Linked DNA regions of Homo sapiens. The protein of the gene in region 2 interacts with the protein of the main gene of each other region in a pairwise test. Each region holds a gene or a part of one and is shown on either strand. Other genes may lie near its edges.

The links. Proteins that work in one complex are often made in the same cells at the same time.
Region 1: the proteins of CTSD (region 2) and H3C8 interact in binary tests that used the Homo sapiens proteins (3 or more experiments, as listed by UniProt).

Annotation. Positions count from the first base shown.
Region 1 is NC_000006.12:26,269,998-26,276,880, forward strand, and holds H3C8 (histone H3.1), read right to left. Parts: upstream 1,417-6,883; 5' UTR 1,388-1,416; coding exon 977-1,387; 3' UTR 921-976; downstream 1-920. Other genes in the region: H2BC10 (histone H2B type 1-C/E/F/G/I), read left to right, coding at 2,979-3,359. UniProt on the Homo sapiens protein: Core component of nucleosome. Nucleosomes wrap and compact DNA into chromatin, limiting DNA accessibility to the cellular machineries which require DNA as a template.
Region 2 is NC_000011.10:1,760,538-1,768,624, reverse strand, and holds the start of CTSD (cathepsin D preproprotein), read left to right. Parts: upstream 1-4,697; 5' UTR 4,698-4,765; coding exon 4,766-4,833; intron 4,834-6,138; exon of another isoform or gene 6,139-7,156; coding exon 7,157-7,316; intron 7,317-7,430; exon of another isoform or gene 7,431-8,087. UniProt on the Homo sapiens protein: Acid protease active in intracellular protein breakdown. Plays a role in APP processing following cleavage and activation by ADAM30 which leads to APP degradation.

The sequences.
Region 1 (6,883 bases), on a different chromosome or scaffold from region 2:
TCTAGATTGCTATTAGTCTCATTGAACCCCAGGTAAAGATTTTTCTAAAGCCTTCCCATGTGACTGTAATGTTACATTGAGAAAACTGATCTGTAAAGAAATCAAACTATTTTAGGGGATTGTTCTGTGCACTTGCTTTAGAGAACATTTCATAGAATATTTCATTCTGTAACATAAATAAACATGCATTTTGCAAAAGCTCACTCCTTGTAAGAGTTCACAGGCAGGATGCCTTTACTGATGAGACCAAAACCAACAACCTAGGCTTCCTAAATCAGTGTTCATGAGAATCATCTGAGGTATATGCAGATTGACTCCAGCCCTAGATGGGGATTGAAACAAGCTCCCATGTAATGCCCTGGGAGCTTCTAACAAGTTCCCACGTAATGCCCATGCTGCCAGTAATGTAGAGGCCAATCTGGCTTTCGTTTCTGCCGCCAATTTCTAATATTGAATTAAAAAATGGATCATTTCACAGAAAAACCAAGAACTGTTTAAAAAAAGGGGGAATTGTGGAAATAGCTGCTTCAGACACGAAAAAGCAGCAACCAAGGATATCCCTACCTACTCTCAACTGCCAATGCTCATACCTGTAAAGTTTTAAAAGGGATTAACCAGAAATACACAACGAAAAAAAATCCCATCTATAATGGGTGTAAGTAGACAACGCGACTAACGCTTGAGACAATGTATATAAACGCCCCCAGGTGGCCCCTTCCACTACCAAATCGAAGCTCCAAACCCCTAAAAGCCAGTTTAGAAAAGGACGCTGACAATCTGGCACTTTCGGGAAAAAGCACGGGAACAAATATAGCAAGCTTACCATTAACTTTAGCCAATCAAATGAGGACTTAAGTACTAAAACCAATGTTTAGTTTCAAAGATTTGATTAGTTAATCACAGCTATTTTCGGGTGAAAGTAGGCGGCTCTTAAAAGAGCCTTTTTAAGTTGGATAGAATTACTGCCCGGAAACCTCTACGCTCTCTCCCCACGAATGCGGCGAGCGAGCTGAATGTCCTTGGGCATGATAGTCACTCGCTTAGCATGGATGGCACACAGGTTGGTATCCTCAAAGAGCCCCACCAAGTAGGCCTCGCAGGCCTCCTGCAGGGCCATCACCGCGGAACTCTGAAAGCGCAGATCTGTCTTGAAGTCCTGAGCGATTTCTCGCACCAGGCGTTGGAAAGGCAACTTGCGGATCAGCAGCTCAGTCGACTTCTGATAGCGGCGAATCTCGCGCAGAGCCACGGTGCCGGGACGGTAGCGATGAGGTTTCTTCACGCCGCCGGTGGCCGGCGCGCTTTTCCGAGCCGCCTTAGTGGCCAGCTGCTTGCGCGGCGCTTTGCCACCGGTGGACTTGCGTGCAGTCTGCTTGGTGCGGGCCATCTCAGACTACCTGAAAGAAAAACTCAGCCACTTGGCAGAGTGGAAACTGCCCTTATATATACTCAGAAACATTCTAATTGGCCTTGTTGATTTTCAAAAGACCCGCGCAACAAAACCATTGGCTGAAGAGTCCAACGATGTGATTGGTGAATTACTGGAAAATCTGATTGGATGAATCACTTCATTTTTGAATCCTCTCTTCTCGGTTAGTCTGCGATCCAAGAACGTTAACTTCTTAAAGTTCTAATTCTGCGCTTCTCAAGCTGTAGTCCGTAAACGACTACTTTAAGACTTGGAAGACGCTAATTCTCATTCAGTAGATGTGTTGTGGGGCCAGATTCGGAGGACCACGTTTTGAGAAGTTTATCTTGTGCCGTTTTCTTGAGTCACCTGGACTGCTGCTAGCTGGAAACCTTTGACCATTATAAGGCAGGATTCCTGGGTGATGTACCTGGGAAATCACGAGCCAAGAAGTCACCGACATACAACAGTGAGCAACAAATGTTAACTGAATTCTATTTTGTCCCAAATGGTGTTTTGCTTCGGTTGAGAATTTTTAAGGCACAGGCTAATTTTAGGTTTTCCAACGACTCTTATCATTTACTTTTCGTTGGGTCCTATTGATGATATTCCAGGATACCACCCCCACTAGCCTCTTCTGCAGGATAACTTGAACACTGCAGTGGCCCTGTCCATCTAAACTTTACAAGGTTTTGTAAACGTTACTGAACTTGCTTCTTCCCGACTACATTAAAGCACTTACTTGAGATATTAAACATTTTCTCATTAGTCCTGTTTGCCTAGTCAGTCACTTGTATAGACAGGGCAACAGCACGGCCTGAATATTGGGCAGGACACCGCCCTGCGCGATAGTAACTTTGCCCAACAGCTTGTTGAGCTTCTCGTCGTGGATGGCGAGCTGCAGGCGTCGGGGGGTGACGCGGGTCTTCTTGTCTCGGGCCGCGTTGCCCGCCAACTCCAGGATCTTGGCGGTCAGGTACTCCAGCACCGCCTCCAGGTACACCGGCGCACCGGCCCGGACCCGCTTGGCGTAGTTGCCCTTGCGGAGGAGGCGGTGCACTCGGCCCACAGAAAACTGGAGACCAGCCCTGGAAGAGTGCGTTTTAGCCTTGGCGCGAGCTTTGCTGCCCTGCATTCCACATCCAGACGCAGTGAAGTATTTAAATACTTGTTTAGAAGAAGGAAAGTGATTGATTCTAGTAAAACGCAAGAGCTAAACTCTTATAATCTATATTCGGCAAAGTAGACTGTGCTATCTCCTGAACACAGATTTCAGCCAATCGAAAAGCAGGTGTTTAAAAAAATTTAAAAAAAAAAAAAAAAAAAAAACCACTTCTGACTTACATACTTATAGTTGAAAGGTCAAATTATGCAAGGTTGAGCTTCTGGGAGAGCCGATGAGATTTAGGAGTTCAGAAATGGCCTATCATATATTCAGACACTAAAAGAACCAATGAGAAACCGAAACTCAGCCAGCCTCATTTGCATATACACGAGGTAAATAATGAGGGCGTTTGGGCTCACCAGCATTTTCCTGTGGTCATTTGACGGTATCACTTCGGCTGCGAACATGCCTGAACCAGCTAAGTCAGCTCCCGCCCCGAAGAAGGGCTCCAAGAAGGCGGTGACCAAGGCACAGAAGAAGGATGGCAAGAAGCGCAAGCGCAGCCGCAAGGAGAGCTATTCCGTGTACGTGTACAAGGTGCTGAAGCAGGTCCACCCCGACACCGGCATCTCGTCCAAGGCTATGGGGATTATGAACTCCTTCGTCAACGACATTTTCGAGCGCATTGCAGGCGAGGCTTCCCGCCTGGCGCATTATAACAAGCGCTCGACCATCACTTCCAGGGAGATCCAAACGGCTGTGCGCCTGCTGCTACCCGGGGAGCTGGCCAAACACGCGGTGTCGGAGGGCACCAAGGCGGTCACCAAGTACACCAGCTCCAAGTAAACTAGTTACCTGGGTAAAAGCGCTAACGACCCAAAGGCTCTTCTAAGAGCCACCCATGTTGTCATTTAAAGATCTGTAATTTTCCAGACTTGGCATTGGCAAGGTAAAATGGCTAAGCAACACATGGGATAGTAAGGGTTTACTGAAACATCCAAGTTCGGCCGGGCGCAGTGGCTCACGCCTGTAATCCCAGCACTTTGGGAGGCCGAGGCGGTCGCGTCACCTGAGGTCAGGAGTTCGAGACCAGCCTCGCCAACATGGTGAAACCCTGTCTCTACTAAAATATACAAAAATTAGCCGGGAGTGGTGGCAGGCAACTTAATCCCAGCTACTTGGGAGGCAGAGGTAGGAGAATCGTTTGAACCCAGGAGGCGGAGGTTGCAGTGAGCCCAGATAGAGCCATTGCACTCAAACCTGGGGTATAAGAGCGAGACATCTCAAAAAAAAATCCAGGTTCGTTGTTTTTTCCCCTATAGATTGTAAGCGTCACCAAGGAGTAAGCTCGTATGCAGCTTAATATGACACATTTCACTCAGCAGCTAAGGAAAAATCGTGTTCTAGATTGATCCCCACTTTTCTTCTCCCCGCACACCACCATCTTAAAATTTTGTTTTCGTTTTTAGTTTCACTTTATCATCCTATTGCCCTTGATTTGGAGTAGCCGGGTGGAAATCAAGTTTGGGGTAGTCTTAAATCTAAAATAAGGTCTGAGAAAGCGAAACTCGTCTTTTAGTTCGTTGTTAGCTTGCAAATGGTTGGAGCGGCATATGATGGAGGAAATCACCTCTGTTGGTTGCATTTCTAAACCATGGCAGATCGCTACCAGACGTTCTCATATCCCCCTTGCAAGTCCACTGATTTCTCTACAAATTTTACTGAGTTTATAATTACTGGATTACTTCACGTAGCTATACATATTACCTCTTGGCAAGATCAGGAACTCTACCATCTTCTTAGCTGAACATATTGAGGTTTAAGACAAAGAACAGGCAACAGGATAGCCTGAAGTTGGAGCAAAGAAATGAAAATTCCCGGTGCTACATTCAGACGCTTTTATCTGTAAGCCTTTTTAAGGCTCCAAGGACTGTGTTCTCCCTAAACCTCCTCCTCCGTGTCCTGGAACGACTTTGTCCACAGCTACTCCCTTTCTTGAAAATTCATTTTAAGAGAGGAGGGTTACAAGGAATTAACATTTGTGTGGTAGTCCTTAGAATGCATTATTTCATTCATTGATTTTTTTTTTCCTACAGTCAGCTGTGAAATGGAAGCTCCTCTTTTACAGGTGAATGACCTCAAGAATTAAGGTTAAGTAACTAGCCCCTTACACATAAATAAAACTGAGATTTGAATCTACTCTGATTCTAAGGATTACTTCCCACTGTTTGTTAGAGACCATCCCAAGCAGGAGCCTAGTTGCTGTCAGAGGAGTCAGGAAATTTAGGCTCAATTGTAATAAAAGAAAACTGGTCAGGAGATACACATATTCTTTGTTGCACAGCAAAGTCCTTACACCAGCAAAAGTTTCTTTTAAAAATAAAATAATATTAATGGTGACCTTTGGGCCCTAAAGATCACCTGGCAGCAAGTTTAACTTTTCTGAGCACTGTATTGTGGTGGGGAAAACATGGGCATTGTCAGTGTAAATGTGAGCTCTAAGATCTTATTTTCTATCTATTACCTACATGTCATTATCTGCAAATACCCACATAGCAGCTTACTGTGAACATTAAGTGACCAAAATTTGCTTTAAATTTTTTGTTTTGAGACAGGGTCTCACTTTGTCATCCAGACTGAGGTGTAGTGACACAACCACAGCTCACTGCATTCAACCTCCCTGGCTAGTGTTCCCACCTGTCTCCCAAGGAGCTGGCACTACAGGCACGCACCATCACACCCACTGAATTTTTTTTTTTTTTTAATGATTTTTGTAGAGCCAGGGTCCCACTGTGTTGCCCAGGCTAGTCTCAAAGTAAATTTGTAATGGAATTTGTGAAGAAAATTCTCTAAGCCCCAAATATAACTAAGGCATTCATTTCTTGCTCCCCAAAGCTAATTTTGAATACATTTTAAATTATATATTCATGAAATATTCAAGCATGGATTAAGGGGGACATCACTCAGGAAGTGATACAGTCCTGACTGATTGTTTCAATCCTAAGTTTGGGCAATTTATCTAATTCTTTTGTAAGCGCTTCCTTACCTGTTTATTCCAAACAGGAATAATAATTAGTAACTACTGCATGACATTGCTGGAGTGACGAATCAAAGAACACAGCTAAAGCACTTAGGACCGTGTCTGCACAGAGAATGACCCCCTAAATATTAGCTGTGGCTAAGCCTCTGGTTGAAGTGATAGGGAAGGTGCCTTTGGTCCTGCCCACATTTAAAGCCCAGAGTCCTAAGGCCTGGAATAATTAGCATTTGATGTGAAATGGGCTTCTTTGTCTGGCAGTGTAAATAATACTCTTTGAACAGTTCAATCCCATCTTTAAAGCCATTGTTTTCCTCTGAAGCATTTTGAAGACATCCTACTGCCTGTGGCTGTTTGATTTCCCTATCGTTGCTTGCCAGTTCAAGCAACGTGTCTCATATTTTCCAGGGACTGTCTCATGCCCTCACTGGAACTAGGAGTGCCCCATTTAATGGTCAGATGTGTTGAGTTGTAAGGAAACCTAGAAATTCACATGAGAAGTGCTTAGTACTTTTTTACTCTTTTTTCTTCCCAAGTTTCCTATTAACTTTGCTAACCTTGCTACATTTATTTTCCATCCATTTGTTGACTAGGTTTCCCTCATATACCTCCAAATCACAGCCCTGTTTTCAGATGAACTTCTGCACCTTGATAAGTATGTTCTTTAATTGGAACATAGGAAATTGGCTGGCTAACGAGGGCCACACTTTCCTGAATCCATTGTATCCCTGAGACATAGGTCACTTCAAAGGAAACTGATTGGTGTAAATTCCTGGCCTGAAAAGCTGAAGAACACCACCTCACCACTAGAGAAGTAACATCATTTTTAGGCTCTGATTTGAGTAGCTGCTACTATTGTATTTGTCACTCCTGCAGTAAATAATTTCTGAAAAGAACCAAGAAGTTACTATCTCCCATCTACCCTCAGCAGTGTGTATCTTGATGGCATTCAGAACATACTATCTCAAAATATGGCCCCTTGACATACTGAATATTTTAAGGTGAAAGAATATGAGAAGCATCGTGGGCAGGAAGGTCTCTCTGATTTTTCCCAACTCTTCTCCCCTGAAACAGGTCATAGGACCCTCATGGGTGAAAGAATATGAGAAGCATCGTGGGCAGGAAGGTCTCTCTGATTTTTCCCAACTCTTCTCCCCTGAAACAGGTCATAGGACCCTCATGAGTCCTAGAGAGTCTGAGAGAAATCTGAACAAAAAGACCTTGCTAGGTTTCTGTTTTACCCTTAGCTGACAGTCTTCTTTTTGTCCTATTATATTTCTGCATGACTCTCCACTCTTCATCAAACCTAGTGTAAAAATACTCAGGTTTACCC
Region 2 (8,087 bases):
ATTCCACCTCAAAAAAAAAAGGTCGATTAGAAGAGGCTTCTCTTCCCGCAGGGCCCTCCCCTGCCCCTCTCTGTGCCCTGCAGCAGCCTCCTCTTTGGTACGTTCCACTCCCCAAGCCCTGCGTGGGCGTCCCACCCACCCCCCAGCTTCATTTTAATCTCTGCCCCTCCACACACCTCCCCACCCCCACCCCTGTCTATATATGAACGGCACTGGGTGGGAATTTCCCTATTGTTTTCTCGATTTCCTAGAGCAGCGTCTACTCGTGGTAGGTGCCCGACACTCACATGTTGAGTGAATGAGCAGATTCTCAAGGCTCCCAAGGGACTGACCCATCCAGGCAGACCCTTTCCAGTCTGGGATTCAGCACTCCCCATGGAGAGGCAGGGTTGGGCTGACAGCCTCCAGCCCTTGCTTGCCCCTGTTAGGTGTCAGCATGCAGCGGGCACCCAGCAGGTCCGACTCCCTTCTCTGCCCCTTTCCTCTCGGGCACTTTGCCATCCTCTGATTCCCTGACTCTCCACACAGCCAGGAGGGAGCCGGAGAAGCCACGACCCCCGTCCTGTGGCTGGCTTCCCAGAGAGAAGCTTGGGGCCCCTCCGTGGTGGGAAGCTCAGTGGGCTGCGATGGCAAAGGCTGAGATGGAGCCTGGGCCTGGCCCCCACCTCCTGCCTCCTCTCCCCAGGTGGGCCGAGCACCCCACAGATGGAGCCCATGTCCCTGCATGCGGTCAGCCGAAGGGTGTGAAAGGTGAAAAAGGGCCCTGTCCCCTGCACTCTGCCAGAGGCGGGGCCTGGACACGCTGCAGCACCCACTGGCCCAGGAGCCCTGAAGGCAGCCCTGGTGGGAAGAGGGTCTCCTGAATCGGCCTGGCAGGTGCAGGAGTCTGGGGAATCTGAGCCAGACAAGGAGGCCAGGGGTCGCTTCTGTACCCTCAGCTCCTAGCAGGGGCAGGCAAGGGCTCCAGAGACCGTTAGCCCAACCTCAACTCTCCAGGGACAGAGGTGAGGCCCAGATTGAGAGGGTCTGCCCGGGTGAGCCAGAGGCAAGGGGATTAGAAGCCACTCCCTTGACCTTCACCCAATATGCCAGCAGGGTCCCACCCTGCCTGGTGGGTCAGTCCCTCGGGGACCCTGAACACCCAGGCATTCATCCCACACATAATTACTGGGCACCTACCACGTGCCGGGCTCTGCTCCAGGAGCTGGGAAGCTGAGCGGGCCCAGGCAGAATGCCCCCTCTGTAATAAACAGAATAACAGATGGTATCTGCGGTGGGGTGGGGCCTCTTCACCCTTGGGGCCCCGAGAGGGTCCTTGCTCAACAGTGCCCCGTTGTCTCAGGGGATGGTCCAAGGCTCTTAGCCTGGCTAGCACCGGCCCACACACCCCACAGCTCGCTGCCACGTTGTGCTTCTGGCCCCACTGGCCATCCGCACTACCCACTGGCTCGCAGCCTCACCGGCTCACCGGGACCTCTGGGTGGAGTGTCGGCCACGCTCTGTGGGCATGCGTCCTCACAGGTGCGTATCTCAGTATCCTGGACACCAAATGCTTCGTCCACCACTGGACCTGGGGACCGAGCAGGGTGGCTCAGGGGACACTAGCTGGGACCATCTTTCACCCCTTGCTGGAGTCCAGTCCCCCAGGGTCGGCTGACATCTCCAAGATCCCAGCCCACTGGAAAGCACGTGATAACCCCAGGTGCCAGGTCCAGGCTGGCCGTGGGCCCCCAACAGCTGGGCGGATTCTGAGGGCAAGGTGTGGACCCCCAGCAGCTGGGCAGATTCTGAGGGCAAGGGTGTCTGTCTGCTCGGGCTTCTGTGTTCAGGCTTAGAACCCCCTCAGATGAAGGGCTCTAAATGGGCGGGAAGGTGGGGCTGAGGGGGCAGCCACTCATTTGTGGCCATCAGGCAGATCCAGCTTCGGGGAGGTTCCGCAAGGGCCAAGGTCCTGATATATTTGGTTACAGAAAAGGTGGGAATTCCAATCCCGCCCGCCGAGAACCACAGAACCTCACTGCCTCTGTAAAGCGGGGTTGGGCCCATCTACCTCGCAGGGAGCTGGGAGGAGAAAACGCACCCTGGGTGAGAGCATGGGGAAGCATCCTTCATTTGGGTCCAAGCTCAGATGCCACCTTCTTGGAGGGACCTTCCTGCGGAGGTCGCTGTTGAGCACATCCCCTGGCTCCATTTCCTGTGTGACTTGGACCTGCCTTAAATGATTTGTCCCAATATCCCTTTCCTACTTACAGCGACCGCACCTCCCGCCTGGCTGTGTGCTCCAGAGCATCTGGGGAATGACCGGGCCCTCCCCTCCAACAGGCCTAATTCAGTCCCCCATGCCAGGCAGGACCAGGGCACACGAGAATGGTGAAGTCCTGGGGCAACTGTCACCATGGCCTCTGCAGGCTCAGTGTCGGGAGACCCAGTTTCTGACCTGGATACACTGCTCACCTTTGAGGTCGGGGCCTAGAGGGACGGTGCCACGTTGGAGACAGGCCTCCAGGGACAGTGCCACGTTGAAGACGGGGTTCCAGGGACGGTGCCACGTTAGAGATGGGGTTCCAGGGACAGTGCCACGTTGAAGACGGGGTTCCAGGGACGGTGCCACGTTGGAGATGGGGTTCCAGGGATGGTGCCACATTGGAGATGGGCAAGTCTGGGCTAAGGGAGGAGGGCCCAGGGTGGCCAGGGCAGGGCCCAGTGAGGTGCTGCTCTGAGGAGGTGGAGAGTGGGCGCTTGGGCAGGGGACACTTGGAGAGTAAGGATGAGGTCCATCTGGGTACCCTGGGTATAGGGAGTGTTGTTGAAAAAAAGCCAAACACTATAAAATATTTGAAGATATTTATTCTGAGCAAATGTGAGGACTATGACCTGTGAAACCACCTCAGCAGGTCCTGAGAATATGTGAGCAAGGTGGCTGGGTAACAGCTTGGCTTTATACTTTTTTTTAAAATTTTCAGGTCTTTTCTGTAGAGACAGGGTCTCACCATGTTGCCCAGGCTGATCTCAAGCTCTTCAGCTCAAGCAATGCTCCCACCTTGGCCTCCGAGTATGCTGGGATTATAGGCAACAGTCACCATGCCCGGCCTGGTTTTACGGATTTTACAGAGACAGATGTTACAGGCCAAAACCATAAATCAACATATGTAAGATATACATTGGTTCAGCCTAGAAACAGGGTTGGCAGGGGCAGCTTCCAGGTCATAGGGGATTCAAAGATTTCCTGATTGGCAAGTGGTTGAAAGAGTTATGTTTTGCCTAAAGAGTTAAAGTGGGATTACTCACGCCTGTAATCCCAGCACTTTGGAAGGCTGAGGCAGGCAGATCACCTGAGGTCAGGAGTTCGAGACCAGCCTGGCCAACATGGTGAAACACCATCTCTACTAAAAATACAAAACATATATACACATATACATGTATATATATATACACATATACATGTATATATATACACATATACATGTATATATATACACATATACATGTATATATATACACATATACATGTATATATATACACATATACATGTATATATATACACATATATACACATATACATGTATATATACACATATATACACATATACATATATGTATATACATATATAGTGTATATATATACGTATATATATGTGTATATATACACTATATATGTGTGTGTGTGTATATATATATATACATACGTGTGTGTATATATACATATTAGCCAGGCGTGGTAGCACGCGCCTGTAATCCCAGCTACTTAGGAGGCTGAGGCAGGAGAATCGCTTGAACCCAGGAGGTAGAGGTTGCAGTGAGCCGAGATCATGCCACTGCACTCCAGCCTGGGCCACAGAGCGAGATTCTGTCTCAAAAAAAAAAAAAAAAAAAAAAGAGTTGACGTGAGTGGACAAAAGGTGCCCGACCTCCTAAGGGAAGGAGCTTCTCTAGAAAACGCGAATTTCGCCCCCTCAAGAGACAGCTGTGCAGTGCCATATCAAAACATGTGAAAGGAATGTATTTTAGGGTGGAATACTTTGCCTGCCTTCGGGCCTGCTGTCTGCCACGTGAGGCTGTGCCAGTGTGAGGCTGGAATTTGGGATCTGGAGGCTAGAGCCATCGGTGAGGCCTGAGTCTCTAAGCACAGCGCCCAGAGGGAGAGGGCGGAGCGGGTCCGACCCCCTTTGCGGCAGGGCCTGAGCTGGTTTTCCAGGTTTCTCTGGAAGCCCTGTAGAGGAGCGGAGGGTCCATTCGGTGGGCTGGGGACTTTGAATTTAACCTTGGTTTGCAAGAGGCTTCCAGAGAGGATGTCTGGGAGCGTCTCGGAGGGGGACGAGGGGGCGCCGGGAGGAGCAGGTGCAGGAGCCCACGGCGCAGCGCCCCGCGCAGGCCTGGACGCGGGGACGGCCGCGGCGGCCGGGACAGGGGTCACCCCGCGGGGCCCTCCAGGGTGGGCCGCCCCACGACCCCAGGCCAGGCCGAAACGGGAATCCTCCAGACCCCAGAAGCTGGGCCGGGCTGACCCCGCGGGCGCGAGCGGCGGGAACTGTAGGCGCGGCAGGCGCACCACCACCCCGCCCCCCGCCCGGGCGCTGTGCGCGTGCGCCGAGGTTGCCCCGCCCAGGCCAGGCCCCGCTCCGCCCCGCCCCGCGCACGCCGGCCGCGCCCACGTGACCGGTCCGGGTGCAAACACGCGGGTCAGCTGATCCGGCCCAACTGCGGCGTCATCCCGGCTATAAGCGCACGGCCTCGGCGACCCTCTCCGACCCGGCCGCCGCCGCCATGCAGCCCTCCAGCCTTCTGCCGCTCGCCCTCTGCCTGCTGGCTGCACCCGCCTCCGCGCTCGTCAGGTGAAGCCTCAGGGGCCGGGGCTCAGGGACGGGCAGGGGTCGCGGCGCCGAGGTCCCGGGGCCTGTGGTGACTTTCGCGCTCCCCTGTGGCCCCCACGAGCCCCTTGCGCCCCCCGCGCTGGAATGCACCTGTGCCGCCCTGCGCGGCCTCCTGCACGGACCACCCGCCTACGGGGCGCCGGGCTCCGGAGGTGCAGGGGACCCGGGGCAGAGGCGCCAGATGCCTCTCCCCCATATGCCACCCTGGGTTGTACCTTGAGGACTGCAGACTGACCGCAGCCTCCCTGGAGACGGGGCGGGGCGGGGGGAGGTAGTGCTCATTCGGGGCAGGTGGAATTGGGGTCTGTACTGAGCGCCCTTGTTGCTGGAGACCTAGGTCAGGCCTCAGAGCCCCCGAGTCTGGGCGAGTCCATTTCCTTAGGGACCCCTTTACCACCTGTGAACTGGGGGCTTTAAAAGTTTGCTCCAGCGGCTCTTATCACAGGCCCTGGGCTGGGAGACCCCTCGAGACCCTAGGAGTTCCCATGTCCCTGAGAGAGGAGGAGGCATGGGGAGTGGGTCGGCTCACCCACCCCGGGCCTGGGGTTGTGCTGTAGTGAGGCCCACACGCTCCTCAGGCCGATCCCCTGTGCCAGGTGAGGCCACCGATTGGGCCTGGATGGGATGGGGCCCGGCCATGCCTGACCAGCTGGGCAGAGGAGGGCCATGCTGCAGTCTGCTTTCTTGACCCCCTCCCCAGCCCTTGCAAGGCAGCCCGCATTCCCAGGAGGGGTATGCTGACCCATCCCATTGGGCACCTGCCCCACCCTTGCTCTGGGCCTTTGTGGGAGACCTGGGATCTGCGATGGGTCCACTGCCTTTTGGCAGGTGGGTGAGGTCAGAAGGCTGCAGGGGCTGGAGCTGGCTGGGCCAGCTGGGTAGGACTGAGCCTCACCAAAGGCTGTGGGGAATGGCCCGGGGGCGGGTAGCCCCAATTAAAGTCGTTGTGGGGGAGTAGCCACAAGCCTGAGCCTGCCTTGACCTTGCCAGCCTATCCACAGGCCTCCCCTCTCCAAGGAGGACAGACACAGCAGAGGGGAAACGATCCTGGGGCTTCTTGGAGGGAAGGGTAGCTGAATCCAAGCCCTCACCCGATTCCAGCTCTTGTGCGACTGATACTATTACACCTGCTTCCTGGTCCCTGGAGGGCGTGTCCCTCCCCCAGGACAAAACCTGGAGCTCTTCCAGCCCACCAGCTCTTAGGCAATAATCTCATCTTCCGGGATCACGCCCCTGACAAGCCAGGAAAAGCCAGCTATGACCTTGTACTCTCAAGTCCCTGGGGCAGGGAAGAGGTTTTATTTAAGTGATTAAAAGCCCAGGGGAGCTTCCTTGGAACAAGGAGTGGGTTCACACCAAGGGGAAGGCCAGTGGCCCTGGGGGAGGAGCAGGGACCCCTCTCTCTCTTACTCGCTTCCTGGGTTTAGAACTCAGGACCCCGATCTCAGTCTGGAGCTCCCTCCTGCACCCTGGCTGGCGGTGTGCTGGGTGACAGGACTCTGGAGGGGTACCCTGAGTGCAGCTGTCGGAGGAGGCAGGGCGGTGGGGGGGGCAGCACAGAAGCCTCTAAGGCCCCAGGTGCAGTCCTGGACCTCGTGGAGCCGCATGGAGTGAGGAGAGGTGCGGATGCCCAGAAACAGATGTGGGATGAGGGCACTGGGCAGCCACAGGGTCCATGTGGAGGAGGACAGGTAGTCAAGGAGGGCTTCTGGAGGTGGTGTGGAGGGCCCATCTGATGGCCAGAGGAGGCCAGGCAGAGCTGCCAGTGCCAGCCTGGAGGTGGGGCCACCTTCGTGCAGGTGTCTGGGGGTGGAGAGCAGGTGTGATGGGGGCTGGGTACAGTGGGCTGCCTCAGAGCACTTTGGGCAGGAGTGACAGGTACCCGCCAGCACCCTGAGCAGCCATGCTGGCCACCATCCTGGAAGAGACCAGCGCAGGTGCAGAGGGAGGACGGGAGACCCTTGGGGGCTTTGGAGCCTCCAGAATGGCTGAGGAGAGGAGGGTTGGGCACACTGGCCCCCAGGTTGGGTGTGTGGGGCTGAGGTGGGTGGCGGGTGACCACTTCTTAGGACTGTGGCCTGTGCAACCTGGCGGGGGGCAATGGGTTGCCATTCACTGACTTGGGGGAGCTGGGCCAGCAGTTTCCAGGTGACAGGCAGGAGTTTGGTTTTGGCTGTGGCGACTCTGAGATTCCCCAGGGGCCTCCAGGTGGATGTGCAGCATTGGCAGCGTCGGCCGGCAGGCGGGAGGGCCTCCCTGATATGCCCCGACCCGTGGTTGACAGGATCCCGCTGCACAAGTTCACGTCCATCCGCCGGACCATGTCGGAGGTTGGGGGCTCTGTGGAGGACCTGATTGCCAAAGGCCCCGTCTCAAAGTACTCCCAGGCGGTGCCAGCCGTGACCGAGGGGCCCATTCCCGAGGTGCTCAAGAACTACATGGACGTGAGTATGAGGTCTTAGCCCTGCTGCAAGCGGAGCCACTGTCAGGAGAGCTCCGTGGCAGTATGGGGAACATTCCCACCTCCTGTTCTCAGCAGCGCAGTTTGAGTGGCTCACCTGGCCACGGTGGCGTCCCGGCTCAGCCACACTCCTTTCTTCCCCATTCTGGAACCTCCTGCCACTGGCCCCTGTCATTGCAGGGTCTTGGTCCTGCTAGGGCCTGGGAGGGTGATTGGGAGTGGCCTCGGGCCTTGGTGCCAGCTCGCCTGAGGGGGCGGTCCTTGGGCCTGCCTGAGTGTGGCCGGCTGACCTGGAGCCTTTCACTGCTGTCCTGCTGGGAGGCCTGTGGTGACTCGTGGCCTCCCCAGCCCCTCCCCATCTTCTTCCTCTCGCAACAGCCCCTCCTGTGCCCACTACTCCTTCAGGGGGAAGCAGGATCCAAGGTGGAGCACTCTGGAAGCCACCTAGCAAGCTGGGGCTTGGTCAGCCTGGTCCCAGCTCTATGGGGTCAGTTCGAGGCCAGGGCCTACTGTCCAGCCTCGGGGCTCTGGCCCACTGTGGGGGAGCCTTGCCCTCTGTCCTGCTTGGCCCGAGTCCTGGCTGTGACAGGAAGCCCAAGACTCACAGGCATGTGACTGGGCCAGGGGGGCCCTGGGGGGAACCAGGCGCCGTGTGCCTGGTCCCGACTGGCCAGTTCCTGATTGTCCTAGCGCGCGAGCAAGCAGATGCACGCATGCGCACACATGCACACACACACATGGAAATTTGCTGAGT